Linked DNA regions of Homo sapiens. The protein of the gene in region 6 interacts with the protein of the main gene of each other region in a pairwise test. Each region holds a gene or a part of one and is shown on either strand. Other genes may lie near its edges. The genes, in order: LMO3, TCEA2, TTLL10, SYT6, TTC23, MTUS2 and CRY2.

Region 1 (4,246 bases), on a different chromosome or scaffold from region 6:
AAGGTTTTTAAAAGTACATTTTTATAACCAAAATGAGTTTTCTCTATAGCACCTTTGAATTCATTAGTTTAGAACTGCTTTTAATTTGGTCTTTCCCATGAGAGCCATTATATTTTCCTCCTGTCAGCCTGACACTGGAGAAAAAAGAAAACTGGCAGATGTGGTGTTTTTCATCTAGTTTGCTTCCTAGTAAAAAAGTGCATTAACTACTATGCATGGAATATTATTTGTAATAATTCTTCCCCTCCATTATCAACTTTAAAGAAACTTGGTTTAAATATTGCCAGTGCAAATGGATAAAATATTTCCTCACGTTATGAAATGAGAGACATTTTATTTTGTACTTCTTTTAGGTCATTACAATAACGATTCTCAGGAATCTGCAGCAAATAGGAATTTTTTTTAAATCCTAGACAATTCCAGTGGTTCTGACAGTATATTATCCTTCAATTTCTGGTCTAGCTATATATAGTTTACAGCCTCATTTACTTTAATGTGCTACTTGAATAACATAATCATAGCTATAACTATGGTATAGAGCCATAAGGTGCATGCATGCGCCTCTATGTTTTTTGACTATTTAAATGGCTTCTTCATAAATGTATTTTTAATAATAATGGCAAACCTTTTAGTAACTAAATGTCAAAAAGTAGTGAATCATTCATTAGTTGGTTCCTTTCCCAACTAAAATGTTTAATATATAACATTAAGAGCAAAGTTATATTGCTTTTATATTTTCTATATACTCTAACCCAGAGATTTTTGCTATGAATTCACCCCCATTGACTTCTGTTTATGTGCAGTTACGTAAGCTTCCTAATGTATTTGTCTTTTCCTTTTCTTCTCAAACAAGATGTGATTTTCATCAAGGAAGGTCAACGGAGAATATATTGCAGAAGAATATTTATGCATACACCTAGGATAAAATCCACTTGTGTACATCATAAAGCATTGTGTATTGTAGCTTTACAGAGTATATTAACATCATCTCTCTTCACGATCTCAGATTTCTCTGTAAGAGTTTGTAAAAAAAAAAAAATGTTTCTTATTCTAGGCTCTTTGGTGTAACGGGAAACTGCGCTGCCTGTAGTAAGCTCATCCCTGCCTTTGAGATGGTGATGCGTGCCAAGGACAATGTTTACCACCTGGACTGCTTTGCATGTCAGCTTTGTAATCAGAGGTAAGCAGGTCTCTTTTTGGTCTCTAAGAAATGGTTAACCTCTCTGTGCTGGCTATTTATTTAATAGGTGGAAATTATATTCATACATTTAAAGCAATCAATCTCAGCGTTTTTCTGTTCTGTAAACTTTAATCCCATGCCAGAGACAAGCTACTAAGGAGAAGAAAGGTCTTAAGACTTACTTCTACCTGAAAGAAAAGCATCATATAAGAGCAAGTAACAGAAAATGGAAACACTACCGTAAACTCTGACTTCTTTTACTCATTCCTTCTTTTATTATTTTCCTGTCTTTTTAAAAGTAGTTTTAAATATCTACTTTTTTATACTACTTATGTGAGTAAATAAATTGGCAATGAAGCAAATATACAGGAATTTGTTGCAGGTATTTTATATTCTTATTATTTTTTATATTTTAAATTCCTTATCCCTCATGTTTTTGTTTTTGCTTTTTTAAATACAAGGTCTGGTTCTGTCACCCAGCCTAGAGCGCAGTGGCACTAACATGGCTCATGCAGCCTCAACTTCTGTGCTCAAGCAATCCTCCTGCCTCAGCCTCCCGAGTAGCTGGGAGTACAGGTGTGCACTCCCATGCCTGGCTAATTTTTTTTTTTTTTCATTTTTTATAGAGATGATGGAGTTTCACTATGTTACCCAGGCTGGTCTCAAACTCCTGGCCTCAAGCAATCCTCCCACCTCCACCTCCCAAAGTGCAGGGATTATAGGCATGAGCCACCACCCCCACCCAATCTAGCTGTTTACCTTAAATTTTAACCCTGTCCTATATGTACTTTTGCAGTTACTTCAAATATCTTTGAGAATCAGTCCAGATATAGCTAATAATTAAACAATTATTATCATTGGAGAGGAGCATTTGAAAAAGTGTTGAACAGGGAACCTGGAAACCTAAATTCTAATATGGGCTCTGCCACTAATAAGCTGTGCGATCTTAAACCAAACAAACACCTTCCCTCTCTGGACCTCAGGTTTTTCATTTGTAACATATGAAGCTGGATTAGTTCATCTCAGAGAATTCTTTCAGCTGAAAAGTATTATCACTTAATTCCATTTTTTCTTATTGAAAGTTATATTTTTTATTTCTGTGAAAACTATATACTACTGGCACCTGTTTTATATGATAAATGGAGAGGATTTTAGAACATTAAAATGTACGTATTAAAAATACAACATTTCAAAAATTAGAACACTTGATAGATTTTAATGAAAATGAATTCACTGACTTTCTGTGAGAACACCTGGCAGAGTATATAATCAATAAATATTAGTTGCATCAAGTTCTCAGTTATTGTAATTTACTCTGAAAGGTACTATTTGATGCAGAATCTTCTTATGAGACCCTGTAGAATAGTAGAAAGAATGTGACATTTCTAGTGAGAACGGGATTCAAATTTCAGCACCACCATATATTAGCTGATATATTAGCTGTGTGATCTTGAGTATGTTACTTAATCTCTCTGAATTTGATTCCCACACCCATAAAATAGAAACACTAACACCTCTCTTGCAGAGTTTGAAACTTAAATGAAATAATTAATTTATATTAAATGTCAGGAACACAACAGGTTCTCAAAAGTTAGTTATCTTTATAATTTACCAAATAATATTCCATTAACTTGACTTTCCCACAAGGCATGTATCACAATAGTGTTTCTTGCTAAATGTAGATATTCAGATTGTTGCCTAATGTACCTTATAATGTAATAGTTACCCAGACAGTCATGTAAGATGTTATCTTACAATGTCTTGACTCTTCCCAGCAAGTACTGAGAATCAAAGTAAGTTCATTCAGTCTAGGGTAACATTTAGACGAAAATAAATTGGCAAATGCACATGTTTTTGGTAGGGATAAGGATATACAAACACAAACATTCCCACATCCATACAGACACCTTTATGTGCATGTATATATGTATTTTATACATTTTAAAGGTGTCTTAGTAGTAAATTTAGAATACTTTTGTTGACTTGTCATGTTGATCAACTAATAGCAGCCAGTAACCATGCAGTTCCCATTATGGAATCATAAAGTCATTGCTTTTCTACTTATAAAAGATTACATATTCATAGTAGGAAATTTAGAAAATAGAAAATGATAAAAACAAGACATTGTCCCATGTCTCATTCTTCTAAAAGAAAACATTTTAATATTTTGATATATAGCCAGCCATACATGTTCCTATGTCTATAGGACAAATGACATTGTATAAATATTACACTCACATTTAAGCAAATTAAAGTTACAAGGGAGAATCCTAATGTTTGATATTTGGACTTTTTCACTCAATTTATATTTTGTGCCTTTTTTACCTGCCATTAAAAATTCTTTTAAGATATTTTAAGCTTTTCTGAGTTCAGCTTTATGGACAGAGCTTCACATATGTCTTCTATCATCAGATATATAAGTTGTATCTTCAAAAGTTTTTGTGCTGTAAATATTATCAGTATTATCAATATAAAAATGGACCTTATGAGACCCTGTAGAATAGTAGAAAGAATGTGACATTTATAGTGAGAAGAGATTCAGATTTCAGCACCACCATATAGTAGCTGATATATTAACTGTGTGATCTTGAGTATGTTACTTAATCTCTCTGAATTTGATTCCCACACCTACAAAATAGAAACACTAATACCTCTCTTGCAGAGTCTGAAACTTCAATAAAATAATTTATGTTAAATGTCAGGAACACAACTGGTTCTCAAAAGTTAGTTATTTTTATAATTTACCAAATAATAGTCCACTAACTTGACTTTCCCACAAGACATATATCACAATAGAGTTTCTTGCTAAATGTAGATATTCAGATTGTATAAAAACAAATGCTCATATCTCTATCTGGTTAAATTCACAGAGCATGATTACTTAAACAAGGTATATAACAGTTTGAAGGCATATGCTGTACATTGCTTAATGATCTCCAGGAAAGTTATACCAATTATTCTCCTAGCAGAAATCTACAAAACTACGCATTCCCTCACATTCATTCTAAAACACTAGGAATTACGTTTAAAAAAAAAAAAAAAAAATCCTTGCCACCTTAAGGGATG
Region 2 (4,739 bases), on a different chromosome or scaffold from region 6:
AGGGCTCTGCCCACATGTTCCTGCACCACAGCAGGGAACCCTTACTGCTCAGTCAAGAAGGGGAGGGGTTCTGCAGCCTCAAGCATTCCAAGTTGTAACCCACATCCGTGGCAATGACCTCACTGACTTCGTTGTAACCACCTCAGGTCACTGACCCAAACCAGAACAGAAATGCCAGCTCCCCTGGCCAATCATGAGGCTTCAGAGCCACGGCCCCTCCCCAGCAGCCAGGGCCACACCCAGGTGAAACTGCAGCCCCAGGTTCATTCACTCCCCTGTGTCTTGATGCCCTGATGCGCAGGGCAGCCTCTCCCCAAAGCACCCCCCGCCCACCAGCTGTGAAGGGCCAACCCAGGAACATCAGTGTCCCGAGCTGAGGCCAAACTCTCATGAAGGGCCAACCCGGGAACATCAGTGTCCCGAGCTGAGGCCAAACTTTCAAGGGTCCCTCCACTCCAGGCACGGCCACAGCCAACACCTACAAGGCCCACAGCCCCCCTCCTCATCTATCCTCCAGGCCTCTGAGTTGCCCCCAAGCAGGCCAGCACCCCTCGCCTGGACTGTTCCAATGCACCTCGTTCTCTCCGCCTTGTCTCCCCACCCAAGATCTGCGTTTCCTCCAGGTCCTCAACACTGACGAGGCCAGGCACAAACCGGTCACATTTCCACACCAGGCCCGGCAACTCAGTGCTCCCCAAGGGCGCTGAGCCGCCACCGAGGCCCTCTGCACCTGCAGCTCCACCGCCTGGGGCGGCCTCCCACAACGTCTCCCTCCCTCCCTCCCTCCCTCCCGGGCTTTATTTCAACAACACCTTCTCAGCAAGGCCTCTCCTGTTTAAAACTGCAACTGTGCCCTGCAACACCCCATCTCCTCTGTAACACGTGCATGTGTTTCCACGTGTGTATCATTCCCTCTGCCCTAAGGTGACCTGATCAGAGTCCCACGACCCACAGGCCATGGGAGGGGCTTGTCCCACCTACCGCCCGCACAACCCCAGCAATCCGGGTGGCATAGTCTGCTCACGCTGCAGCCCCTCCTGAGCCCTCCCAGGCAGGCCCTGCCTCTTGGGCTGTACAGAGTCCAGCCTTGAGGTGATAGCCAGAGCCAAGGCCACTGTCCCCTGAAAGCCCTGCACCTGCTTACGTGGCTCTCAGTGGGCTCAGGTCCAGAGGCAAAAAAACCCCCACACCTGGCCCCCAGGTCCCCGAGGGGACCTCAGGCACTGGGACCCCCAGGAGGCTCTGCTGGCTCCCACTCCCCACTGCACAGCGCCCGCCTCCCCTCCTCATTCTCCCCTGGGGCTTCTACTCAAGCTGTTCTTCCACCAGAAACCCCCCATCAGTTCTGCCCAGCCCCACCCAGCCCTCCCCTGGCTCCATGACCCATCTTTGCTTCTCCCACCTACAGCTTTTATCGTTTGTGTTTTGTCTCCTTTAAGAAGGGGAACAACTCCATTCTCGGGTCATCTCTGGAAACAGCTATGAATGGTTCGCAGACCCCTACTTTGTGCTGACCAGTTTTCCGGGGTGTGTGTGAACGCAATGATGGGGGTGCTGCACCCAGCAGGAATGAGTGGGAGCCCACCCCTTCCCAGGGCAGACCCCAGTCCAGAACGCTGGTCACAGGAACCCAGACTCAACCCTGCTCAGCCCAAAAAGCTTCCCCCAAACCCCCACTGCAGTCACACAGCCCTGGGGTGGCTGCACAAATCACCCAAAGCCCATGACTCAGCCACCTTCACCGCCCTGGGCTGGCCTGGCAGACACACAGCTGGCCCTGCCCCAGGAGTTCACAGTCTGGGTGGGAAAGCACAGGTCACGTTTATTGAGCCAGCCAGGAGCTCCAAATGACCTGCGGCCAGACCCCTCCCCACCCCCCAGGAGGCAGGCAGCATCCTCTAAAGATGCTTCTGTGGGAGGGTGCAGAGGTTGCCAAGGTCATGACGCTGGAACTGGACCCCCACTGACCTGGCCCCTTCAAAGTCCTCACACACAGCCTCCTCCAAAGTCTCGCTGTGGCCGCAAGACAACAGAGGCCCAGGCCGCAGTGAACAGAGCCGGCCAGAGGCTCCAGCGCCCAGACACTCCCAGAGGAGGCTTGCCCGACCTCCTGGCTCTTATATAAGCACACCGGCTCTTTTCGGAGGGTGTCCACATAACTACCCACAACCCAAGTTGCTGCGGGCTAAGTCCTGGCTAAAGAAGGGAGAGAATTTATTAGAGAAACCTGGTTCTTGTGGGGTGGGGACAGACAGGGAAGAAAATGGGCCCACAGGCAAGACAGGTATCTGGCTGGCCTGTGAAGGAGGATGACAAGGGCTGGGAAGAGGCAGGGGAGGCACGGAAGCTCCAGAAGAAAAGGGGATCCAACCTCAGACTCCAAACTGTTGCCGGCGACAAATGCTATGGGAGACGGAGGGTGACAAACGCTGTAAGAGACGGAGCGTGGGAGAGGGCTGAGTTGGGGGGCGGGGCTCGGCCTGTGAGGATGCCCAGGCCGGGATGGAGGAAGGCAAGGGGCTGGCGCGGCCCGCAGAGGAGGCCCGAACACCCCGGGGGCTCCGAGAGGCGGGACAGGGCCAAGGAAGGAGTCGACGGGCCAGGCTGGGGGTCTGGAGTTAAGGGACAGGGAAGGGTGCGGAGCCTGTGACTGCGGGCGAGGGAGGGGTCTGAGTCCAGAGCGGGTGGCTCTCCCGGGACAAGGTCCAGGCCTGATCGCGGCCTCTGCCGGGGTTGCGGGAGTGAACGGCAGGGCTGGCCCGGGGCAGGGGTCTCGGCCACGGGTGGGGGTCTCCCCTGCGTCCCGGTTAGTCTCTGCCGGGGAGGGGTCTCGTCCTGCCCCTCAGGTCGTCTTCCGGCCCTAACGGGGGTCGGCGGGCTCGACGGGGTCTCGGCGGGGCGGGGTTCCCGGGGTCCTGGCGGCCCGCGCCCCTCACCGCGCTCTTCTTGGTCACCATCTTGTCCAGCCTCCGGGCGATCCGCGCAATCTCCTCTTCCTTGCCCATCATCGCCTCAGGAGCAGCGACCCCCGCGCCCGTCGCGCCCGCCTCCGCAGCCGGGCAGGACCCCGGCCCCGGCCGTCGCCACCTCCCACACCCGCCGCAGCCGACGCAGCCCCGCCGCGGACGACAGACCCCCGGTTCAAACCCTCGGCCCCGCGGCCGCGCGCGGCATCCTAGGATGCGTAGTCCACGCGCCCGCCTGCCGCGCCCGCCGCGCCCGCGCTCTGGACCACAACTCCCAGGCGCCACGCGGCGCGCACAGCCTCCTGGGAAGTGTAGTCCTGACCCACCGTCGCCAGTGACTCGTGATCCCACAATACCCCGCGAGGGAGGCGCCCCGGGCACGCCCCTCCCAGAGCTCAGACATCCCGGAGCGACCGGGCCCCAGGAGGCCCAGGAATCTGCTCCCTTCTCTCCTCCTGCTTCGGGCCTTGCTGTCCCGCGGCGTCCTTCGGTGGGTGGCTCAGGACCCAGTGCCCTCAGCCCTTCTCTTGGGCCCCGCTGAGCCCTGCGCGCGCCCCACTTGGCCTAGAAGGCCGTCCCCAGCCTCCCAGAGCCCAGTTTGGGTCATTCGGGCTTCTGAGTAGAGTTACTTCTTCAAGAGGCCCGCGCACACTGGGAGGCCTCTTGTGGGGCCCTGCAGGTGTGAGCGCGCGGTAGCTGGACGTGGCGTCTGGAAGGGGCCATTGCTGGGGTTCGCGAAGTGCGGGGGCCTCTGCCGAGGCTGCGTGGGCAAGGCCCCTGCCTGCAAAGTCAGCTACCAGGGAGCAGATTCTGGGCTCTGCACGTTGACCACTGTGTCTCAGTCTCCCCACCTGTGAAACTGGAGTTAAGTGTCCGCCTCACAGGGCTCCCGTCAAGATGATGTCAGCTGATTCACATCACATGCCTGAGAACAGAGAGGGGATGGAGCATGACAATTAGTGTTCATTGACATTGTTGTTGGAGGTCCCTAGGTAGGGCCAGACTGCAGGCAGCCAGAGAGATGGCCCAGGCCTAGGGAGGGTTGAGGACGGGGACAGGTGCAGGGCCAGCATCCCCACCACTGCCTGGCAGCTCCCCAGTAATGCAGATGCTGGGTGGTTTCCTGGAGAGGGCACAATCCTGGGGGAGGGTGTGGATCAAGGAGCCTGTAGTCATTCAAGTTCAGGCCAACGAACTATGAGGCCAGGTGGCAGGTGGAATGGGCTGAGCATTTCTTGGGCTGTCTGTGGCACTAATCACATATAACTGAGCTTCCCCGCAGCCAAAATGAAAAGGAAAATATGGTCAGTTAAGAGACTCATCTTAGCCGGGCAATAGTGGCTCATGCCTGTAATCCCAGCGCTTTGGGAGGCCCAGGCGGGTGGATCACCTGAGGTCAGGAGTTCGAGACCAGCCTGGCCAATATGGTGAAACCCCGTCTCTACAAAGAATACAAAAACTAGCCAGGTGTGGTGCCGGGCACCTGTAATCTCAGCTACTTGGGAGGCTAAGGCAGGAGAATTGCTGGAACCCGGAAGGCGGAGGTTGCAGTGAGCCAAGATAGCACCATTGCACTCCAGCCCTGGCCAACAACAGCGAGACTCCGTCTCAAAAGAAAAAAAAAGAGAGAGAGAGACTCATCTTGGTTGGGCACAGTAGCTCACCCCTGTAATCCCACCACTTTGGGAGGCTGAGGTGGGCGGATTATCTGAGGTCAGGAGTTCCAGACCAGCCTGGCCAACATGGTGAAACCCTGTCTCTGCTAGAAATACA
Region 3 (4,246 bases), on a different chromosome or scaffold from region 6:
ACTCCTGGTTTCACTGATTTTCTCTACTGTTTTCTATTCCATTTATTTCCACTCTATCTTTATTATTTCCTTCTTACTACTTGCCTTGGGTTTAGTTTGCTCTTCTTTTACTAATTTTTTTTTTTTTTGAGATGGAGTCTTGCTCTGTCGCCCAAGCTGGAGTGCAGTGGCACGATTTCAGCTCACTGCAACCTCTGCCTCCCGGGTTCAAATGATTCTCCTGCCTCAGCTTCCCGAGTAGCTGGGACTAAGGGCACGTGCCACCACTCCCAGCTAATTTTTTTGTATTTCTAATGGAGATGGGGTTTCACCATGCTGGCAAGGCTGGTCTCAAACTCTCTTTTTCTAATTTCTTAAGGTCAAAAGTTAGGTTATGATTTCAGTTTTTTCTTCTTGCTTAAGGTAGGTGCTTAGTGCTATACATTTTCCTCTGACCACCACTTTTGCTGCATCCATAAGATTTTGCGTGTTGTCTTCATTTTCATTTGTCTCAAAGTATTTTTATTTTTATTTTTTATTTTATTTGAGATGGAGTTTCGCTCTTGTCACCTAGGCTGGAGTGTAATGGCGCAATCTCAGCTCACTGCAGCCTCTGCCTCCCGGGTTCAAGCGATTCTCCTGCCTCAGCCTCCCGAGTAGCTGGGATTACAGGCACCTGCCACCACGCCTGGCTAATTTTGTTTGTATTATTAGTAGAGATGGGGGTTTCACCATGTTGGCCAGGCTGGTCTTGAACTCCTGACCTCAGGTGATCCGCCTGCCAAAGTGCTGGGATTATAGGCGTGAGCCATGATGCTCAGCTGCAAAGTATTTTAAATTTCCTTTGTAAGCTTTTCTTTGACCCATTGGTTGCTTAAGGGCCTGTTATTTAATTTCCACATATTTGTGATTTTTCCAATTTTCCTTCTGTTATTGACTTCTAATTTCATTCCATTGTGTCAGAGAACATACTTTATAATTTCAACCCTTTAAAAATTATTGAAAAATTATTGGAGCTGGTGTGTTGGCACATACCTGTAATTCCAGCTACTCAGGAGGCTGAGATGGAAACATTGCTTAAGCCCAGGAGTTTGAGTCCAGCCTGGGCAACACAGCAAAACCCCATCTTTAAAAAAACAACAAACTTACTATTCATTAAGTGGATCATTAAAAAACAAAAACAAAAAACACTTGAAACTTGTTTATGTCCCAGCATATGGTCTATCCTGGAGAATATCCATGTGCACTGGAGAAGGAGGTGTATCCTGTTTTTGGGTGTAGTGTTCTGTAGATGTCTGTGCCGAGACCAGCTCGGTCGGGGAGACCCTAACCCGGCGGCGCTAGAGGAATTAAAGACACACACAGAGAAATACAGAGGTGTGAAGTGGGAAATCAGGGGCCTCACAACCTTCAGAGCTGACAGCCCTGAACAGAGATTTACCCACATATTTAGTAACAGCAAACCAGTCATAGCATTGTTTCTATAGATATTCAGTTAACTAAAAGTATCCCTTACGGGAAACGAAGGGATGGGCCAAATTAAAGGAATAGGTTGGGCTAGTTAACTGCATCAGGAACACGCCCTTAAGACACAGATCGCTCCTGCTATTGTTTGTGGCTTAAGAACGCCTTTCAGCGGTTTTCCGCCCTGGGCGGGCCAGGTGTTCCTTGCCCTCATTCCCGTCAACCCACAACCTCCCAGCGTGGGCGTTAGGGCCATTGTGAACATGTCACAGTGCTGCAGAGATTTGTTTATGGCCAGTCTTGGGGCCAGTTTATGGCCAGATTTTGGGGGGGGGCCTGCTCCCAACATGTCTGTTAGGTCTGTTTGGTTTATAATGTTGTTCGAGTCTTCTATTTACTCGTTAATCTTCTGTCTCTGTATTGAAAGCGGGATATTCAGTTGTCTACTTCTCCCTTCAGATCTGTCAGTTTTTTGTATATTTCGAGGCTCTGTTGTTGGGTGTGTGTATGTTTATGATTATTAGATCTTCTTGGTTTATCGTTATAAAAATTTTCCTTTAATCTGCAGTAATAATTTTTGTGTAAAGTCTATTTTCTGTGATATGAGTGTAGACACTCCAGTTGGTATAAGTGTAGACACTCCAGTTGATATGAATGTAGACACTCCAGTTGGTATGAGTGTAGACACTCCAGTTGGTATGAGTGTAGACACTCCAGTTCGTATCAGTGTAGACACTCCAGTTGATATCAGTGTAGACACTCCAGTTGGTATGAGTGTAGACACTCCAGTTGGTATGAGTGTAGACAATCCAGTTGATATCAGTGTAGACACTCCAATTGATATCAGTGTAGACACTCCAGTTGGTATGAGTGTAGACACTCCAGTTGGTATGAGTGTAGACACTCCAGTTCGTATCAGTGTAAACACTCCAGTTGGTATGAGTGTAGACACTCCAGTTGATATCAGTGTAGACACTCCAGTTGGTATGAGTGTAGACACTCCAGTTGTTCATATCAGTGTAGACACTCCAGTTGGTATGAGTGTAGACACTCCAGTTGGTATGAGTGTAGACACTCCAGTTGGTATGAGTGTAGACACTCCAGTTCTACTTTGGTTACCGTGTGTGGTACATCTTTTTCCATCCCTTTACTTTCCACCTATTTTTGTCTCTGAAACTAAAGTATCTTTTGTAGATGGTATATCATGTTTTTTTAAGAAACTCCGTCAATGTCTATTAATTGGAAAGTTTAATTCACTTACATTTAATATAATTACTGATAAAGGGCCGGGCACGGTGGCTCACGCCTGTAATGCCAGCCCTTTGGGAGGCCAAGGCAGGTGGATCACAAGGTCAGGGATTGAGACCATCCTGGCTAACACGGTGAAACCCCGTCTCTACTAAAAATACAAAACATTAGCCAGGCGTGGTGGTGAGCAACTGTAGTCCCAGCTGCTCGGGAGGCTGAGGCAGGAGAATGGCGTGAACCCAGGAGGCGGAGCTTGCAGTGAGCCAAGATTGCGCCATTGCACTCCAGCCTGGGTGACAGAGCGAGACTCCGTCTCAAAAAATAATAATAATAATAATTACTGATAAGGTAGGATTTACATATGCTATTTTGTTATTTGTTTTCTATGTCTGTCTTTTTTTGTTCCTCAGTTTCTCCATTACTGCCTCCTATTGTTTTAGAGAGATATTTTCTAGTGTAGCTTTTTTTTTTTGAAACGGAGTTTCGCTCTTGTTGCCCAGGCTGGAGTGCAGTGGCGTGATCTCGGCTCACTGCAGCCCCCGCCTCCCGGATTCAAGCGATTCTCCTGCCTCAGCCTCCCTAGTAGCTGGGATTACAGGCGCATGCCACCACACCCGGCTAATTTTTTGTATTTTTAGTAGAGACGGGGTTTCACTATGTTGGCCAGGCTGATCTCAAACTGCTGACCTCAGGTGATCTACCCGCCTCAGCTTCCCAGGGTGCTGGGATTACAGGCGTGAGCCACCACGCCTGGCTTAGTGTAGCATTTTAATTACCTTGTCATTTATTTTACTATATGTTTTTGAGTTATTTTAGTGGTTGTCCTGAGGATTACCATTAATATTGTATCTTAATTTACTACAATTAGGGTGAGTGTGGTGGCTTATGCCTGTAATCCCAGTGCTTTGGGAGGCTGAGGCAAGAAGATCATATGAGGCCAGGCATTTGAAAGCAGCCTGGGCAACATAGTGAGACCCCATCTCTAAAAAACAAAATTAGCTCAGCATGGGAGTGTGCACCTGTAGTCCTCCTAGCTATTTAGGGGGCTGAGATGGGAGGATCACTTGAGCCCAGGAGGTCAAGGCTGCAGTGAGCCACAATCAAACCACATTACCCCAGCCTAGGTGACAGAACAAGACCCTGTTTCTAAAATAAAAAATGTTTTAAAATAAACAATTCAGTTTTTTATTAATACCAAGTTAATTTCAAAAGCATACAAAAACACACTGCTCCTAAAAGTATACAAAAACACTCCTCCTACACAGCCCCACCCCTCTCATGCTGTTGTCACAAATTACAGCTCAGTATATTTGTGTCCATCAACATGGATTCATAATTATTGTTGTATACAGTTGTCTTTTAGGACAAAACAATCACATACAAAAAAATACATGTATGCTGTCTCTTATATTTAATTACACAATGACCTTTTCTGGGGCTCTTTATTTCCTCCTGTGAGTTCCAGTTACTGTCTAGTGTCTTTTCATTTCAGCCTGAAGGACGGTAGGGCGGGTCTACCTTTGTTTATCTGGGAATGTCTTAATCTCCCCTTCAT
Region 4 (4,246 bases), on a different chromosome or scaffold from region 6:
ATGTGTTTGTTGCAGCTCTGAGTCCCTCAGAGCTACCCACACACATCAGGATGTGGGGAAGAGATTAACGGACCTCTTCTGGCCTGGGAAAAGCTTAGGCAGCAGCAAGTCAGCTTCCCCTAAAATACAGCCAATGTAGATTTCATTTTAATACCAAAATAAGTGCATAACAGGGAAGAAAATTCACTGAAGACTCTCAAGGCTGCTGAGGGAAATAGGATTTTGCTGCCTAAGTCCCCACACTATCTTCTCTGGTGTAATTAAATTGATGTGCTGGAGAGAAAGCCTATGGTGAAGCTGCTGAGGTCATCACAAAAGCTGCTCTGAATCAGAGGGTTTGGGGTGTGAGATTTTGTTCTTGCTAAGTTCTAACCTCCCTTTCACAATTGCCCCTCTTTTTGACCTGGGTTTGGAACCTGTTATTAAACCTTGGCTTGATTCCGAAGATCCAGGGGTCTTCTTTTCATTACAAGTTTCTGTCTATTTTGTTCATTGATGTAAGCAAGTATCTGGAACAGTGGATAAAACACAGTAAGCATTCAATAAATAGATACCGAATGAATGGATGGTTGAATTTACAGCATGAGGAACCTGGCCCAAGGGTGAAGCAGTGGGGGTGTACTTGCTAGGAGCCTCTCGAACTAGATCTCCTGTTCTTGAGGATGAGTTTGAGGTTTCCCTCAGCCCAGACTTATTCGATGTTGGACTAAGCTAGGTATTGAATGGAGCTTATTAATTGCCTATTCTTGAATTGTGTGGCATTGATGTCTAAAACCCAGGATCTTCCTATTCTCAATGATCTAAACTAGCCCTGAATCAATTCTCTAAGCCTATCTGCTAGAACCATGACACTAAAAATAGCACAAAATAATAATAAGGACCAGTATGCTACAAAGGGGTGGTGAGCACATTCTAAATGCTGGATTTTGATTGCTCCCATGACAATGAGGCTGAAATACACTGCTGGTCTTTGTGTCCCCTCCCTCAGCTGCGTAGAGCATCATAGGCTGTTAGAGAGGAAAGGACCTCCAAGATCATCTGGGGCCAGCATTCCACTAGAAACCGCAGACTTTTGCCCCAGAAAAGCCTAGGGAACGGTCATCTGTCTGCTTGGCTTCATGGATGCTGGTGAAAGTGTTGGTTCCTGCAAGGGAAATATGTGCACTGAATTTTATAAATTTCATATCAGCCAGGCACAGTAGCTCATGCCTGTAATCCCAGCTACTCGGGAGGGTGAGGTGGAAGAATCACTTGAGCCCAGAAGTTCAAGACCAGACTGGGCAAAACAGCAAGACCTTGTCTCTTAAAAAAAAATGGATATGCCTTGTAAGGATGAACAGAGTTGGGGAAGGTTGCTAAGACATTTGCTCAGTGGCCCATGGGACAAGTGGCTCTGCCTCTATTTTTCCAAGCCTCATGATATGGAAATCTGCCCTGATGTGGGAGTGTATGGAAATAGGTAGAGCAGGGGAATGAGGCGGCACCTGAGCAACCTCAAGTCTGGAGCCACTTTGCAAGAAAAGGTACATCCTTATGGATTTTGCAAGCTGCTGTGTTAAAGACAGGTATTGGGGCTAGCTCTGCCCATCTGTCTACCTGAACCTGAATAATGTCCTGGGGCATATCCATAGAGAATGGAATCTGTGGAAACCAGAGCCTCATGCCGGTTCTCAAAACTCTTACTTCCATTTTACTGAAAATCCCTAAGAGAGGGTCCTTTCAAATGTGTAGTTTGAGACAGCAGGTTGATTAAACACCTCATGGTCTCTCCATAAACCCAACCTCATCTCCCCATGGTTAAGGCATAGCTACTGCTGCCACATGGATTAGTCGGCAGCTCATTTAGGTGTCTACAAAAATGCCTTTCAGGCTTGGAGTTTCTGATCAGGTGTCACAGTTCTCCCTAATTTCCACCAGGGATGTGTGCCTCATCTGCCATCTGAATGATGCCAGGGAGTACAGGGCCCTAGTGGGTGCTCGATGTCCAGGAGATAGAACCATATGCCTATGAATCACAGAGCTGGGGAGCAGCTGCTTGGCTGGCACCTCCTGACAGATTCACAGGAGCCCTGGCTTCTGGGCAACAAGGTGTCTCAGCACATCAGCGTCTCGAAAGCTATTATTACCTGTGAGCCGCCCTCCCATTTCTTGAGCTGTGCAGCATAAATAACAATTATGATGGTGACCGAGACACCTGTGCTATGAGATACACTAGGTTTCACTTCACTTGGGTGAGTAGAAAATTTCAGGGTAGAAAGATGACCATGAAATACCCATTCAGAAAACTAAAGAAAACAAAAGGATGGGAGGCACATGGAAGTTCAATAAAAGCATCTCTTTGCAGGATGGAGAGAATCCAAGATCCCACTGAGAAAGGAAATGTCAACCAGCTGCCCTGAGTCTCCCCGGGCCACAGCTCCCTCATTCTCCACTGTCCAGAAGTGGGCAGGAAATGGCTTCCAGGGAAGCAGAGAGCAGGGCCACTTCACGCCTTCTAGATGCCAAATGGAAATGGGATTATTGAGACAATGGGACCCAAAATTATGTTGTCAGGTGGGGAGGACATGAACAGCATTGTGATTGTTGCTGTTCATTTCACTCTGACACATTGTGTCTCCCTGGCCATTGTTGAGTCCTATTTTTACCCCGCCCCAAAACCTTTATCCTTTGGTTTGTAATTCTGGTAAAACAAAAAAGCCACTCAAAGAATAGTACTCCACATAGGTAAAAGAAATAGTGTCATTGTTCAGCCTCATCACCTTTTTGAGTCAGCCAGGGATTGACGAGCTGAGATTTAGGGCTGTGAACTGCATACCTATCGGCAGGTGTCATGTCTGATATGGGGCCAGCTTCCCCATTAGTAAAAGTCCATTAGGCGCTCTCCCAAGAATACTGAGGTAGCTAAAGACTCTGCATTTATTAAGCACAGAGTGTCCTCAGAGACAGGTGTGCTACATAAATACAAGGTGGTTTAATTATTTTAACAACCCACTGATACCATCTGATGAGCAGCAGTAGGTCTAGGGCTTCGGTCCCTTTGCTGCAAATGATGTTTGCAGACATCTGTTTAACATACTCCATTCCCTTTTCTCTGTCCCCATTGGCACAGATCCCTATGTGAAAGTGTCCTTGCTCTGTGATGGGCGGAGGCTGAAGAAGAAGAAAACAACCATAAAGAAAAACACTCTCAATCCTGTCTACAATGAGGCCATCATCTTTGACATTCCCCCGGAAAACATGGATCAAGTCAGCCTGCTCATCTCAGTCATGGACTATGATCGGTAGGTAGGCGTCCTAGAGGGACGTAATTCTACCCCTCACTCCCACTCCAGCACCAGCACAGGGCTCCTTGACCTTAGACCTTGTGATTCAGGGCTCAGCTTTAGGGTTCAGGCCTCAAATCTATCTGTACCCAAGAAGGGTGCAGGAGTTTGAGGAAGAGCATAGATTCTCCCTTAGCAAAGGTTCAAAGTTCTTTTCCCAACTGGCCTATCTCCGTCAGGGGCAGCTCTGTCCATCAGTTTCCCTGAATTCACCCCTTGCTATTCCCATTCTTCCATCTGGCACCAAGTCCTATTATCTGGCCTTTGAAATGCCCCTCTATCCTCTCTATTTCTGCTGTTGCTACTACTGTCACCCTGGGATGGCTGTGCAGCCTCCTAGCTGACCCCTGCCTCCATCAATTCCTGCCACAATTCGGTCAACATACTAAGGACACATCTTCCTAAATGACAGCTTTCTTCCTGGACCTGCCCTTCTCAAGAACCATCAATGGCTCCTGTGATCCAGGCTTTTCCCTTGGACTCTGATGGCCTTCCCTAATCTGGACCCAGCATATCCATCCAATCGGATCTCCCCTTCCTCAGATATTTTTCGTCTCTTCCACTCATCCTGCTCTTCCATCTAGGCTGGCTCAAAAACATTTTTCAACTACTCTGGTCCCCATAACTTCTTCTCTCCACTTGTCACTTTAGCTAAAGGAGAAAGAAACCATGCAATAAAGCCTCAATACAGGACTTTCAGCCCAAGTTCTCAGGCATAGTATTGACGAACATACTTAAGAGATAATTGATGTTCTTACCGAGTGAATAAATCACATTCCAGCCACTGGGGTTTTGGAGAAATGGTGCTCAGAGACTGTCGATTTATTTGCAAATACTGATGTCTCAGTGAGGTTGTAATGTGTTGGCGGGGTCAAATAAGTGAAGAGACTTAGACTGTCTCACCTCGCATACTCAGGCTATCT
Region 5 (4,246 bases), on a different chromosome or scaffold from region 6:
TATTCCCTAAGAATAAAGCTATTCCCTTACATGGCCACAGTACAGTGATCGTAATTAGGAAATTAATGTCAGTATAATACTATTATCTAATCTGTAAACCTTGTTTATATTTCTTCTTAATAATGTCCTTTACAGAAAACAATCAGACCCATGGTTCAGTCTGTGAATTCATGTTAAATAGAGTTGTCATGTCTCTTTAGTCTCCTTTAATCTGAAACAATTGCTTAACCTACTTTGTTTTTCATGATCTTGATATCTTGGAAATATATACTCTAATTGTTTTGTAGAATATCTCTCTGTTTGAGTTCGTCTTATGCTTCCTCATGATTCTATTCAGATTGTACATTTGGAGCAGGACTACCACAGGTGTGACATGGGGCGCTCCTTAGTGCGTCCTGTCAGGAGGTGCAGAATGTCTGTTTGTCTTCGTACAGTGATGCCAACCTTGAACACTTGGTTAAGGTGCTGTCTGGCAGGTTTCTTTACTGCAGAATTGCCATTTTTCCCTTTGTAATTAATAAGTATTTTGTGGGTAGATTCACTGAGACTATGTATATATTTAAAACTTCACTCTGCCACCTGAATCAGTTATTACTATGATGTTTGTCACATAGCCAGTCTCTGACTTCCACATTATTTCAACATTTGTTTGTTGGCATTCTATTATAAGGAAGAGCTTTTCTTTCTTCACAGCTTATTTATCATTCATTTATTCCTATCAGTATGGGTTCAGGAAATTGTATTTTTCAAATACACTACAACCTGTTATTTTCATGGAAGCTCGGATTGTTCCGTATCTGCCAGTGAGAGACCCTTCCAGCTGGCTCCTGAGTCCTCAATGCATCCCCTTACGGTTTAACCACTTCCTGGCGCTACCACTTGCTGGTAAATCATCTCGACTTTCCAGCCTTAGACTCCTTCATCTTTAAACTGAGGGGACCAGGTGAGATGATTTCCAAGGTTCCTCCCAGTTTTGAAATTGCCTTCCTACTTCGTGCTTGTCTTCTGTCTGCCCCTTACTGATGCCTATTGCTAAAGTCACTGGAACTGGTAGAATAAAGGTTGGAAAACCAATAGGGATATTTGGACCATGCCTTGTAACAAATAAGGACGTGAAGGAAGGACAAGCTGTTTCTTGTATACCTCTATCCCTACTCAGGTCCTGAGAACCAAGGCTATTATCAGGGAAGCCCAACTCAGCCTGCACCGTCCTCTTCGCTGGAAATCTGTAGTTGGGACAGATTCACTATCAAAACAGATCTACCTCTCTTTTTGTCTGTCTGGATTCCATGATGTTGTCATCATTTCCGTGTCTTTCATACACTGTAGTTGTTGTTCTCTTTCTCTCTCTCCAAAGTAGTCATTCCCTAAACTTCCTGTGTCTAGAGGCAATAAAAAGGTGATTCCCAAAAGAAGTACAAACAGCCAGTTAACACATGAAGATGCTCAGCCTCATCAATTTGGGAGAAAAATGTGGACTAAATCAAGGAGAAATGGGCTAACTGACAAACTGACAAACTAAAAACCAAACAAAAACTCCACAATTTGTACTCAGTTCAACGTAAGGGGCATTTCTGCTCACATGTGCTGCGCTGAAAGTATGAACTGGTACAACCTCTGGGAGAGGCACTTCAATAGCTACTCACAGCCTCAGAATTTTGCATATCCTTTATACAGCAATCCCATTTGTGGGAATTTGTTTTGTGGAAATGTTTATGGGTATGTGCAAAGCTATCCATACAGGATATTCAGTGAGTAAGAAATTTACAAACAGCTAAATGCCCAATAAAGAGTGGATTGAGTAATGCAGTTATGATATAGTCATATAATAAAATACTGTGCAGCCATTCAAACTTATATCATAGAAGATGACATGAGAAGTTATTCGTAAATTGTTAAAACAGCAGCTGTAAACCTGCATGTAGTTTATGAACCTATTTTTGAAAAAGAAAAAATATATAAAGATAGATTCACAAAAATAAAGAATAAAGGGATATTTATCTACCTAGATATCTCTAGGCGGTAAACTTACAGGTGATTTTTAGTTTTTATCTTTTTGCTTATCTGTATTTTGACAATGAGCATACATTATTTTTGTAGTAAGAAACGTTACTGTAGAAAAGAATATGACAGTCCACCTTCTTTCAGCACTTTATGGTGAGCATGTATTCCTTAGCTTCCTCCTGCTAGGTCACAAAAGTGACTCTCCTTTGGCCAACTGTCTGGCTGTGTATTTTTGTCAAGAAAAATGTTGTTTTAGGGTGAAGGTATTTCCAATGCATGTAGGAATTGTGTGGAAATGCAAGCCCTTTGAGCTTTGACATTGATGGGCGTGCATCCTAGGTGTATCCTGGATCTTCTTCACAACTCTGTCCTTGTTCTTACCTTTCTTCCTCTGCTTTGACCCCTTCAGCTTTCTTTCTTCAGCCATCTCTCTTGCTGTTCTGACTATCTGTTGCTGCATGACACCCCAATAACTTAGTGGCTTAAAACCAAAACAGCCATTCATTTTTCTCATGAGCCTGCGGTTTTTGCAGAGCTCAGTGGGGTTTGCTCAGCTTTGCTCCGCACAGCATCAGCTGGTCTTGAAGGGTCTGGAGAATCTGCTGCCAAAATGGTTCACTCAAACTATCAGGCCTTTCTATGTGGGTCTTCTCTCCATGGGGCCATGTTGGCTTCCTCACAGCACTGTGGTTGGATTCTGTATTAGTCTGTGGTGCTGTCCTAACAAAATTCCACAGATGCTGTGGCTTAAAGAACAGAGTTTATTTCCTCACAGTTCTGGAGGCTGGAAGTCCAAGACCAAGGTGTGAGCAGGGCTTGATTTCATTCTAAAGCCCTCTCTCCTTAGTTTGTAGATGACTGCCCTCTTGCTGTGTTCTCACATGGTCATTTCTCCATATGCATGCCCATCCCTGGTGTCTTTTCCTCTTCATATATAAGGATACCAGCTGTATTGGACTAGGGTCCACCCTAACACCTCCTTCGAACTTAAATCACCTCTTTAAAGACCTCATCTTCAAAAACAGTTACATTATAAGGTGCTGGGGATTGGGACTTAAATATATGAATTCAGGGAGGTTGGGGAGGAGACACAGTTCAGCCCATAACAGGTTTCAAGAGTGAGTACCCAAGAAGAGACAGAAAGCAAAGCCACCAGTTCCTTTAGACTGTGGCCTGAAAACTGGCACTGTATCATTTCCTCCACGTTCTATTGGCCAAACAGTCATAAAGCCCAGATTCAAAGGGAATGGGACATAGACCCCCATCTCTGAATGGAAGGAGTATCAAATAATTTTGGAGCTGAGGTTTTGTTTGTTTGTTTGTTTTGAGACGGAGTCTCGCTGTGTCGCCCAGGCTGGAATGCAGTGGCACGATATCGGCTCACTGCAAGCTCCGCCTCCCGGGTTCACACCATTCTCCTGCCCCAGCCTCCCGAGTAGCTGGGACTACGGGCGGCCGCCACCATGCCTGGCTAATTTTTTGTATTTTTAGTAGAGATGGGGTTTCACCATGTTAGCCAGGATGGTCTCGATCTCTTGACCTTGTGATTCACCCATCTCCGCCTCCCAAAGTGCTGGGATTACAGGTTTGAGCCACCACGCCCAGCCTGGAACCGTGTTTTAAAACTGCCAGCTCTGCTTTGAGGATATGGCTGCTCTGAGATCACCTGGAGCTGGGAATCCAGTTTTCTGTTCTTTTTGTCCTATCCCTGAATGAAACTGTGCTTCTTGCTGCTTTAATCAAGTCTGTAAGTCCTGCTGATCTCATTTGCTATGCTAGTGCAGATGGCTAAGGAAAGTTTTGAATTGAGAGCTAAACTATAGTATTTGACAGCCTGGGCAACATGGCAAAATCCCATCTCTACCAAAAATACAAAAAACTAGCCAGGTGTGGTGGTGCACACCTGTGGTCCCAGCTGCTCAGGAGGCTGAGGTGGGAGGATTGCTCGAGCCCCCTGGAGGTCGAGGCTACAGTGAGCTGATATCGTGCCATTGTACTCCAGCCTGGGTGACTCCAGGTGAGTGAGACCCTGTCTCATACACACACACACATACACACACACACAAAGTGTACTATTTGAAAACACTACCATTTGCCCCTGTTGTGCCTGCATATGTAGTAGCTGTTCATTGGTGGGCAGCTGGGAAACCTAGAGAATGACTAGATGTCTGCTCTACTTTTTCTATTTTTTAAATTCTATTTCTTTTTTTCACCCTTAAATGTACTATAAATTGTACTTCTT
Region 6 (4,246 bases):
GGGAGGCTTATAATATCTACCACACACATGTTTGAAACGAGTTGTTGAAAAGAGTCAAGGAGTTTCCCCTTTTCTCTGAAATGATTTCTACTTCCTATGTGAATTTGGATGCCTTTAGATCTTATCATCTTGACCCTTCCCACCAACGGGTATACCTTGTCTATCAATTACCCATCCATCAGTCATCTATCTACCATCCACCCACCCATCCACAGAGACTCTCTTTTTGACCAAACTTTAGTCAGGCTCCCCTGAGCCCTCTTCTCAACTGGGCCTCAACCTTGGCCCGTAAGAACTGCAGCTTTCAACACAAACAATTTTGTCTGTGCTCCCACCCTCCAACGGATTTGAAAACACTGTAGCATGGTGTATTAGCCTGTTCTCACCTTGCTGATAAAGACATACCCAAGACTGGGTAATATATAAAGGAAAGAGGTTTAATTGACTCATATAGTTCAGCATGGCTGGGGAGGCCTCAGGAAACATAGAATCACGGTGGAAGGGGAAGCAAACACGTCCTTCTTCACATGGCAGCAGGAGAGAAAAATGAGCAAAAGGGGGAAAAACACCGTATAAAACCAGCAGATTTCATGAGAACTTACTGTCGCGAGAACAACATGAGGGTAGTTCCCCCATGATTAAATTACCTCCCACCTAGTCCCTCTCATGACACATGGGGATTATGGGAATTATAATTCATGATGACATTTGGGTGGGGACACAGCCAAACCATATAACATGGCATCTAGCAGCCTAAGGCCATGTGTCTGGGATCACCCAGCCTCACTTGCATTCCTACCTAGAAAAGCTCAAGGCTGCCCCAAAGAATTTATCTTTTGTTCTAGCCCACACAAATGATAATAGGCCCCTGACTTTCATTTTGTTAGATCGTTTATTAAAAACTTACAATTGTAATTCTTTCTCTGTGCCTTTGAGATATATGTGTATCTCCTACCACCTGGAGTGTCTTCCTCAGTGTCTGTGAGCCATTCCTTTGAAGTGTAATCATCAGGGAGGATAGGGCTCTGTCCTCTAGTCTCTGTAGATGGGTAGGAGCCTAACTTTGACAAGTGCCATTTAGCAGTCACAGATGGCCTAGTCTCATTGGCAAGCCCCCTTGCCTGATTGCTGTAATGTTCTGTGTCCTTGACCCTGCTTGAGCCCCCACACATTCTCATTTCTCCTCCCTACTTCCTTATTCTCCCTTTAAAACACCCAGTCACCTCTACCTGAATTGGAGTTGAGCTCAGTTCTATACTGAAGTCTCTTTCTCTCACTGCAGTTGTACTGGGTAAAATCTGTCTTTACTGCCTTTAACCAGTGTCTAGCTTTTTTTTTTTTTTTTAAACACCATCCAACAAAAAAGTTTGAGTGTCTCCATAGGCCAGGCACTTTTACATATTAGGTATAGAGCAGCAAATAAAACAGACAAAAACTGCATCCTTGAGGAACTTACAGTGTAATGGAATGAATCAGATGAGGTTAAGTACTTAATATATCAGGTATGGATACTGCTATGGAGAAAATAAATCAGAGATGGGGGAGCAGGAGTGGGTTATGGGGAATTGCTATTTCAAGTAGTGTGGTCAGGGAATGCCTCACTGAAAGGAGATGTTGAGCAGAGCCCTAAAGGAGATGGAAGAGTGAGCCACCTGACCAGAGTGCAGCTGGCATTTGTGGGGAGCACAGGGAGGCAGCTGCAGGCCGCAGTGGGGGAATCTCATGCTCATGGCCAGCTTTTCCTCATGACAGCAGCCCCATCCCCCACTCCAGCCACCTGAGGCTGCCCACGAACACTGGTGTTGTTCTTGGGGCCTTAGTGGTATGGTGGCTTGGAACTGAGGACCTCTCAGGGCATCGGAATCCAGCCTAGACCATACCTGAATAGGAGTAAGGAATGAGAGTGTATGTTTTCAATGATGGCTCCCACTGGTTTGTCATAGGAAAGAGGCTGGGGGCAAGCTCACTCCAGCCTGGATTCCCTGCAGTCACCCTGGGAACAAATGGAACTATGATGTATAAAAGATGTGGACAGTGGAAACCACACGGCTCTTTCTCGAGGAATGTCTTAATATCAGGAACCTAGAACAACTTTCTGATTTGAACTGAGCCTAGAGAGAATCCCCAGCTTAAAGGGAACTGGGGTTGGTTAGGGTTTGAGGAGGGGAAATTACTCAGTCATTGACCGAGGCTCCTGCATGCCCAGATGGCTGCTCAACATCTGCTAACCAGAACAACACACACACACACACCCCTGGCAACAGGCTGTCATGAATTTCTCCATGGAGAAGGTGAAGAAACCATTGGGGAGCAGCAGCCAGGGCCTGTCTGCTGGTTTTTAGTTACAGCCTTTCTATACTCATGGGGACAGGGGTATGGAACCAGGATGGGATAGCTGTTTCATTTTTTAAGCTGTTAGCTTGTAACCATTTTAAACTCTCAACAACCAAAACACAAATCTCTCATATAGAGGTTCCTTGGATTGTTTGCTGGTGGGTAGGGAGCATCACAGCAGCTTGAGTGAGCATATGCAGCTGGCATTGGGGAGGTGGCATTTATAGGAGTCTGGTGTTCCTGACTCTTCTCTGTGCCTGTCATGACTTCATGTGGTCTCTTACTTTGCAAGCTTCTCTCACGTGCCCTATTGTATTTGGAAAATGGGGAACTTAAGGTCATTCCTGGGTATTTGATACTCCTCTTTAGCTTTTGTAAGTGGGCCTTCTTCTAATTGGTTGTATATATTCTATATGTTGGTTGTATTACATATAACCAATAATTGATATATAGAAAGCTATTCTAAAATGTAATGTAACCAAGCACTTTTCAAGCTCTTATTAATTATAACCTTGTTTTGTGGTTATTTTCCTTGGATTTTCCAGATAGATGGTCATATCATCTGCTAAATAAGTAAATAAATCAATAAATTTAAAATACATGGTTAGATGAATGAATAGATAAAAAATGATTACTTTGGTCTCTTTATTTCTATTTTTTATTATCAGACTAGATAGAAGACGAGACTGTTTATCTGTTGAGAGATTTTAAAAACAAGATTATTGTATTTCAGCCAAATGTACTTCCCTTGTCCCAGAGAGGATAGGCTATATGATCTCTGAGGTCCTCTCCTTATTAGTCTTTTTACTCTGTTTACTGTAGACCCATTGTACCAGTATGTTCAGTTCCCATAGAAAAACAAAAGAGTGTTTACACACAGTCATTATAGATAAGCCAGCAGTGTGTGTGATTAGGGCCAAACCAGTATTGATGATGGCCTGATACTGACTTTAGAAAGTTTGACTCACCTTGCAGAAATGAAAAGCCAACATAATGCATTAGCGTCTATGAAGACTGTAATAAGGCAAATACATTTGTCCAGAAACAGGCTGATATTGATACACTGATTTTAAGTGCTTTTCCCCAAAAGTACAATAGAGAAAGCCAGGAATATATAGCCTTGGATTACAATAAATGATAATAAAACAGCAGAAGCAAATAACACTTAATAGGGAAGTTTATTTTCCACACTTCATCAGATTGCTACTGCAGAGTACTAGTCTAAAAATTTAATATGAACACTAGCTCTGTAAATACGGGAGAAGTAATCTCAAATCATCCTGAATTAATTATCTTTGTGCTAAGCTGTTTGACATTACTCATTGAAAATAGCTTCTCAAGACAGGCAGTATTTTTCTACACACAAATAATTGTGTTCTCAGGTTGGAAATGTTGCCACATATTAAGCCAAACACATTTTTTTGCTTCTAATTCTTATATTACTATCAGTTTATTTCAGGGAAAGTTAATTTGAGAATTGAAATCATGTAGCAGAATAATTTTGGTTGAAATTGATGTTTCTAAGCCTGATGCATTTTCCATTAGTGTTACATGGTATCATTGGAAGTTTGTACAGTGAACATGCCAAACATTAGGTTTAGTTTTCTGAAGACTCTAGCAAGTATTCTTTTTTTTTAAATCCACATTGTATTAGTTTAACTGGCAGGTAGTAATTAGTTTTATATTGAGTGAGCTAATTTGCCACTACTAGCAGATTTTGAAGTTATTTTAATATAAATACATTGTCCTCTACCCCCAAACTTTATACTGAAATTTTTCTGCTAAATTTTAGGATTATAATTTTGATAATGGCCCAGGATATTGGAATAAAATATAAATGTGAGTTAGCATTAATATCTCAGTTTAGAGAATAACAATAAAAGCAGGAATGTGACCTGCAGCCACATTTCTT
Region 7 (4,246 bases), on a different chromosome or scaffold from region 6:
CTTAGCTTGGACAGATAGGCCAAGTGCCAAGCAGGCTAGTAGGGATTTTTCTGTGATTAGAGATTTTGTCAGTCTCTGTCTTTAGGCGGCTCTGCGTCAACACCAGGGAGCCCGGAATTGAGTCCCAGCTCTGGCCCTGCCTTGCTCCATTACTGAGGCACCTGCTTCAGCTCTCTGGGCTTTATTTTCCCTCTCGGTAAAATGGAGATGCGGCCTCCCTTGCCCCCTCCTTTCCACTCAGGCATGGGACCTGTGAGTGGATGAGGAAAGCCACCCTCAAAGCCTTCAGAGTCTGGGTTCTTTTTTGGGTGGGCAGGGACCCACATCACAGGGCCATGTGGGTAACACTAGCTATGCTTTGGGCTCCCCAGGATCATTGAGCTGAATGGGCAGAAGCCACCCCTTACATACAAGCGCTTTCAGGCCATCATCAGCCGCATGGAGCTGCCCAAGAAGCCAGTGGGCTTGGTGACCAGCCAGCAGATGGAGAGCTGCAGGGCCGAGATCCAGGAGAACCACGACGAGACCTACGGCGTGCCCTCCCTGGAGGAGCTGGGTGCGTACTTCCTGCCCAGAGCCACTTGTGCTGGTGCCTGCTTTTGTGTAAAGAAATTCTTTGTGAAAGTAATGCATGTCATTATAGAAAGGTTAGAAAGCACAGGAAAACAAAAATGGAAATGGCAGTCACTATTACTCCACCACCCAGAGGTAACCACAATTAATTTTAAACTGTGTCCTTCTAGTATTTGTTCTGTTCATACTCATACATGTAATCTTCTGTTTCTGGTTCTAGATCATGCCTCTATTTTTGTACTAACCTCTCGCAGACAATACAGGCACTGCCTGGTGCTGGTGTCCATGGGCTTCTCAGTAACAAGATAGCTAGTATTGCTTCTGTTGAAAGCAGGGAATCTGTCAGCCTCTCAGATTACTAACTACACTCTTTCACCCCTCCCTCTTTCTTACCTTTTTTTTTTCTTTTTTAGACGGAGTCTGGCTCTGTTGCCCAGTCTGGAGTGCAGTGGCACAGTCTTGGCTCACTGCAACCTCCACCTCCCGGGTTCAAGCAATTCTGCTGCCCCAGCCTCCTGAGTAGCTGGGACTACAGGCGCCTGCCATCACGCCCAGCTAATATTTGTATTTTTAGTAGAGACGGGGTTTCACCATGTTGGCCAGGCTGGTCTTGAACTGGTGACCTCGAGTGATCCACCCACATCGGCCTCCCAAAGTGCTGGGATTACAGACGTGAGCCACACCTCCAGTCTTTTGATCTGAACAAAGCTATTAGCCTTTTTCACCTGAAAACCACAGTTGTTGCCAGCTAATCTGAAAAGGCAGGAGGTCCGGGATTGTTGTCATCTACCTGGAGCGATGAGGGTGCAGGGGAAAGCAGAGAAAATAGTGACTGTGGGAAGAGAACCAAGTTGACCTAGAAAACGCTAAAACTTTAAGGATTATCTAACCCCCAGTAGCACCGAGACACTGTGGTTCAATTCTCATAAAGTTCAAATAACAGAACAGCCGTGCCGGGCTATCACTGAAATGGTCAAACCTCCTGTCTTGTGACCTTTCCTTCTCTTCAGGGTTCCCCACTGAAGGACTTGGTCCAGCTGTCTGGCAGGGAGGAGAGACAGAAGCTCTGGCCCGCCTGGATAAGCACTTGGAACGGAAGGTATGGGCCGTTTCTGAGACACAGAGCTGCAGATACTGATATCCACACAGCAGGAGATACAGGTCATGTCCATGTCCTTTAGTCCCTCTTAGCTCACATTGTTTGGAAAATGAAAAATCCTCCTATCCTCCTGATGGCCATAACAACAGCAACACTAACAGCAACTACCATTTAGAGAGTACTTACCATGTGCTGGTCACTAGGCTCAGCATTTCTGGGTTAAGCACCTGCTGGCATTTCTTTTAATCTTTCCAATAGCCTGCAAGGTAGGTACTAAGCTGTTCATTCTACAGATTACAAAATTGAGGCTTAGAGAGGTTAAGTAACTTGCCTGAGGTCACAAAGTTAGTAATTACAGGTTGAGTATCCCTTATCCAAAGTGCTTGGGACCAAAAGTGTTTCAGATTTTAGATTCTTGAATTAGGAATGCTCACCTTATAACACAGTAAGACCTTGTTCTATGTTATTCTAAAGCTATGTCGGATTGCTTTTCTTTCATCTGTGGGCAGGTTCCCCCTACTAAGAGGATATCTGGTTAGTAAAATCTATAAGATTATTTTGTGTTGATGTGTCTCCGCACCTTTTTGCTGGAACTCTTTCAGCGTGTTGATTTCCATATGCTTGGACACAGAGCAAATGGCCCACCTCCCAGTGCAGTGAGAACTGGGGAGGAAAGAAGCCCAGGCCTCAGAGGCACAGTGTCACAAAGTCCTCACTCCCCTGCAGCTAGAGGAGCAGAGAAAGTTCTCATGTCCGAGAACAGTCAGCTCCTAGTTTCCTGCCCCCTGCAGCTGGTTTATAAAATGTCAGCTTTTTCTATGCCTGCTAAGATGGCTAGGTATTTTGCCTAGCAGCCAGATGATGACGATAATAGAACAAGGAGGCCAAGGCAAATCTACTTGGGAAGAATGTTCTCCAGCCCTGGAGGTGTCCAGTCAACAGTGAAGGCCCACAGCCTCGATGTTTCTACCTGGTTGTTTCCTTCAGCCTGGGACGAAAGCAAGCCCCACAGACTTAAAGGATGAGACTAGCTATCTCTGTCCACATCAAAAGGTTCACCTAGAGATTCTTGGGCCCAGTTTGAAGACAAAGGTTGGGCCAAGGGGCAGAAGGGTGGAGATGACAAATGGGATTGCAGGAGTAGAGTAAGGCTTAAACCTGTAAAGAGCTATCATCTATGGTTAGTTTTTATCAGCTGGAGAACATTTTGTAGAAGGATGTCCCTTAGGTCACCGACAGGAGCTCCTTTTCCACATACCCCCAGAGAGCGGGCCCCTTCTCTCAAGGGCCCTTACGCCATGGACATATTCAGACTCAGTGGTGCCCAGAGGAAATACTGTGTCCTGCACATCTGGGAGAACAAATGGTGCTAGAGATACAGGAGTTGAACCTGATTTCAGGATGTTTATTTTAGCTTCCTTCAGTTCTCCAAATCTGAAGGGAGCACCTACTCATGCCAGTTTAGCAATACTAGATAGAAGAAGGTATGTGCCTCTTTTCCGAAAGCACCAGGAAAAGTCCCAAGGCATGTTTTCATTGTCCTGGTTTGGGTCATGTGACTGTCCCTGACTCAATGACTGTGGCCAGGTATAGGAGGTGGTGCTTTCCCTGGCCAGACTTGCATCATGAGTCCGCTCCCAGAACTGGAAGGTAGGTTTAGCTCTGCTTTATCCACTCGGACTAGGATCAGGGAAGGCTGATTCTCCACAGGAATATGAGATGCTGTTACTGAAAAGCAGAGGAAGCTACATGATCTTTACCACTGGGTTACTCAATAGTAGATGAGGGCAAGCATCTCTCTATAAAAGTATTCTGATTATTAAATTAAAAAGGAATGGTGGAATTTGAATACCACCATTTTGTAACCCTCAATAATGATGCATTATGTATTGGTGACTGCTGACACCATAGAAGGAGGCAAGCATTATGTGCCCCCTGTAGTCTTGTCAAAGGGATCAAACCTGAGTCCAGTCCAGTTTCTGGTACTAGCCACCAATGTGCAGGTGATACACAGGACACAGCACTTGTTGAACTGCACCATGAGTATACAGTCAGCAAAATCCAGACTGTGGGAATCTTGGCAAGTCAGATGGCCTGGATTCTTTCCCAGAACAATGGAAAGGAAAAGAAAAAAATGGCATAAAATGTGCAGATTAAAAGAAAATTAAATAACATATTAAAGTTTTTTTTAAGGCCAGGCACAGTGACTCACACCTGTAATCTTAGCACTTTGGGAGGCCAAGGCAGGAGGATCTCTTGAACCTAGGAGTTCAAAACCAGCCTGGGCAACATGACAAGCCCTCATCTCTAAATAAAAACAAATTAGCCGGGTGTGGCAGCATGTGCCTGTAGTGCCAACTACTTGGGAGGCTGAGGTGGGAGAATCACTTAAGCCCAGGAAGTCATGCCACTGCACTCCTGCCTGGGTGACAGAGAGTGGGGTCTCAGAAATAAAAGAAAAAGAATCCCAGCACTTTGGGAGGCCGAGGCAGGTGGAGCACTTGAAGTCAGGAGTTCGAGACCAGCCTGGCCAACATAGTGAAACCTCATCTCTACTAAAAATACAAAAACTAG

What was found.
Region 1: the proteins of MTUS2 (region 6) and LMO3 interact in binary tests that used the Homo sapiens proteins (3 or more experiments, as listed by UniProt).
Region 2: the proteins of MTUS2 (region 6) and TCEA2 interact in binary tests that used the Homo sapiens proteins (3 or more experiments, as listed by UniProt).
Region 3: the proteins of MTUS2 (region 6) and TTLL10 interact in binary tests that used the Homo sapiens proteins (3 or more experiments, as listed by UniProt).
Region 4: the proteins of MTUS2 (region 6) and SYT6 interact in binary tests that used the Homo sapiens proteins (3 or more experiments, as listed by UniProt).
Region 5: the proteins of MTUS2 (region 6) and TTC23 interact in binary tests that used the Homo sapiens proteins (3 or more experiments, as listed by UniProt).
Region 7: the proteins of MTUS2 (region 6) and CRY2 interact in binary tests that used the Homo sapiens proteins (3 or more experiments, as listed by UniProt).

What each region holds. Positions count from the first base shown.
Region 1 is NC_000012.12:16,557,347-16,561,592, reverse strand, and holds part of LMO3 (LIM domain only protein 3), read left to right. Parts: intron 1-1,054; coding exon 1,055-1,180; intron 1,181-4,246.
Region 2 is NC_000020.11:64,061,582-64,066,320, reverse strand, and holds the start of TCEA2 (transcription elongation factor A protein 2), read right to left. Parts: upstream 3,124-4,739; 5' UTR 3,009-3,123; coding exon 2,937-3,008; exon of another isoform or gene 1,969-2,936; intron 75-1,968; exon of another isoform or gene 1-74. UniProt on the Homo sapiens protein: Necessary for efficient RNA polymerase II transcription elongation past template-encoded arresting sites.
Region 3 is NC_000001.11:1,190,318-1,194,563, forward strand, and holds part of TTLL10 (inactive polyglycylase TTLL10), read left to right. Parts: intron 1-4,246. UniProt on the Homo sapiens protein: Inactive polyglycylase.
Region 4 is NC_000001.11:114,098,129-114,102,374, reverse strand, and holds part of SYT6 (synaptotagmin-6), read left to right. Parts: intron 1-3,109; coding exon 3,110-3,281; intron 3,282-4,246.
Region 5 is NC_000015.10:99,222,081-99,226,326, reverse strand, and holds part of TTC23 (tetratricopeptide repeat protein 23), read left to right. Parts: intron 1-780; exon of another isoform or gene 781-943; intron 944-4,246. UniProt on the Homo sapiens protein: Participates positively in the ciliary Hedgehog (Hh) signaling.
Region 6 is NC_000013.11:28,823,339-28,827,584, forward strand, and holds part of MTUS2 (microtubule-associated tumor suppressor candidate 2), read left to right. Parts: intron 1-4,246. UniProt on the Homo sapiens protein: Binds microtubules. Together with MAPRE1 may target the microtubule depolymerase KIF2C to the plus-end of microtubules. May regulate the dynamics of microtubules at their growing distal tip.
Region 7 is NC_000011.10:45,860,477-45,864,722, forward strand, and holds part of CRY2 (cryptochrome-2), read left to right. Parts: intron 1-371; coding exon 372-556; intron 557-1,583; coding exon 1,584-1,672; intron 1,673-4,246. UniProt on the Homo sapiens protein: Transcriptional repressor which forms a core component of the circadian clock.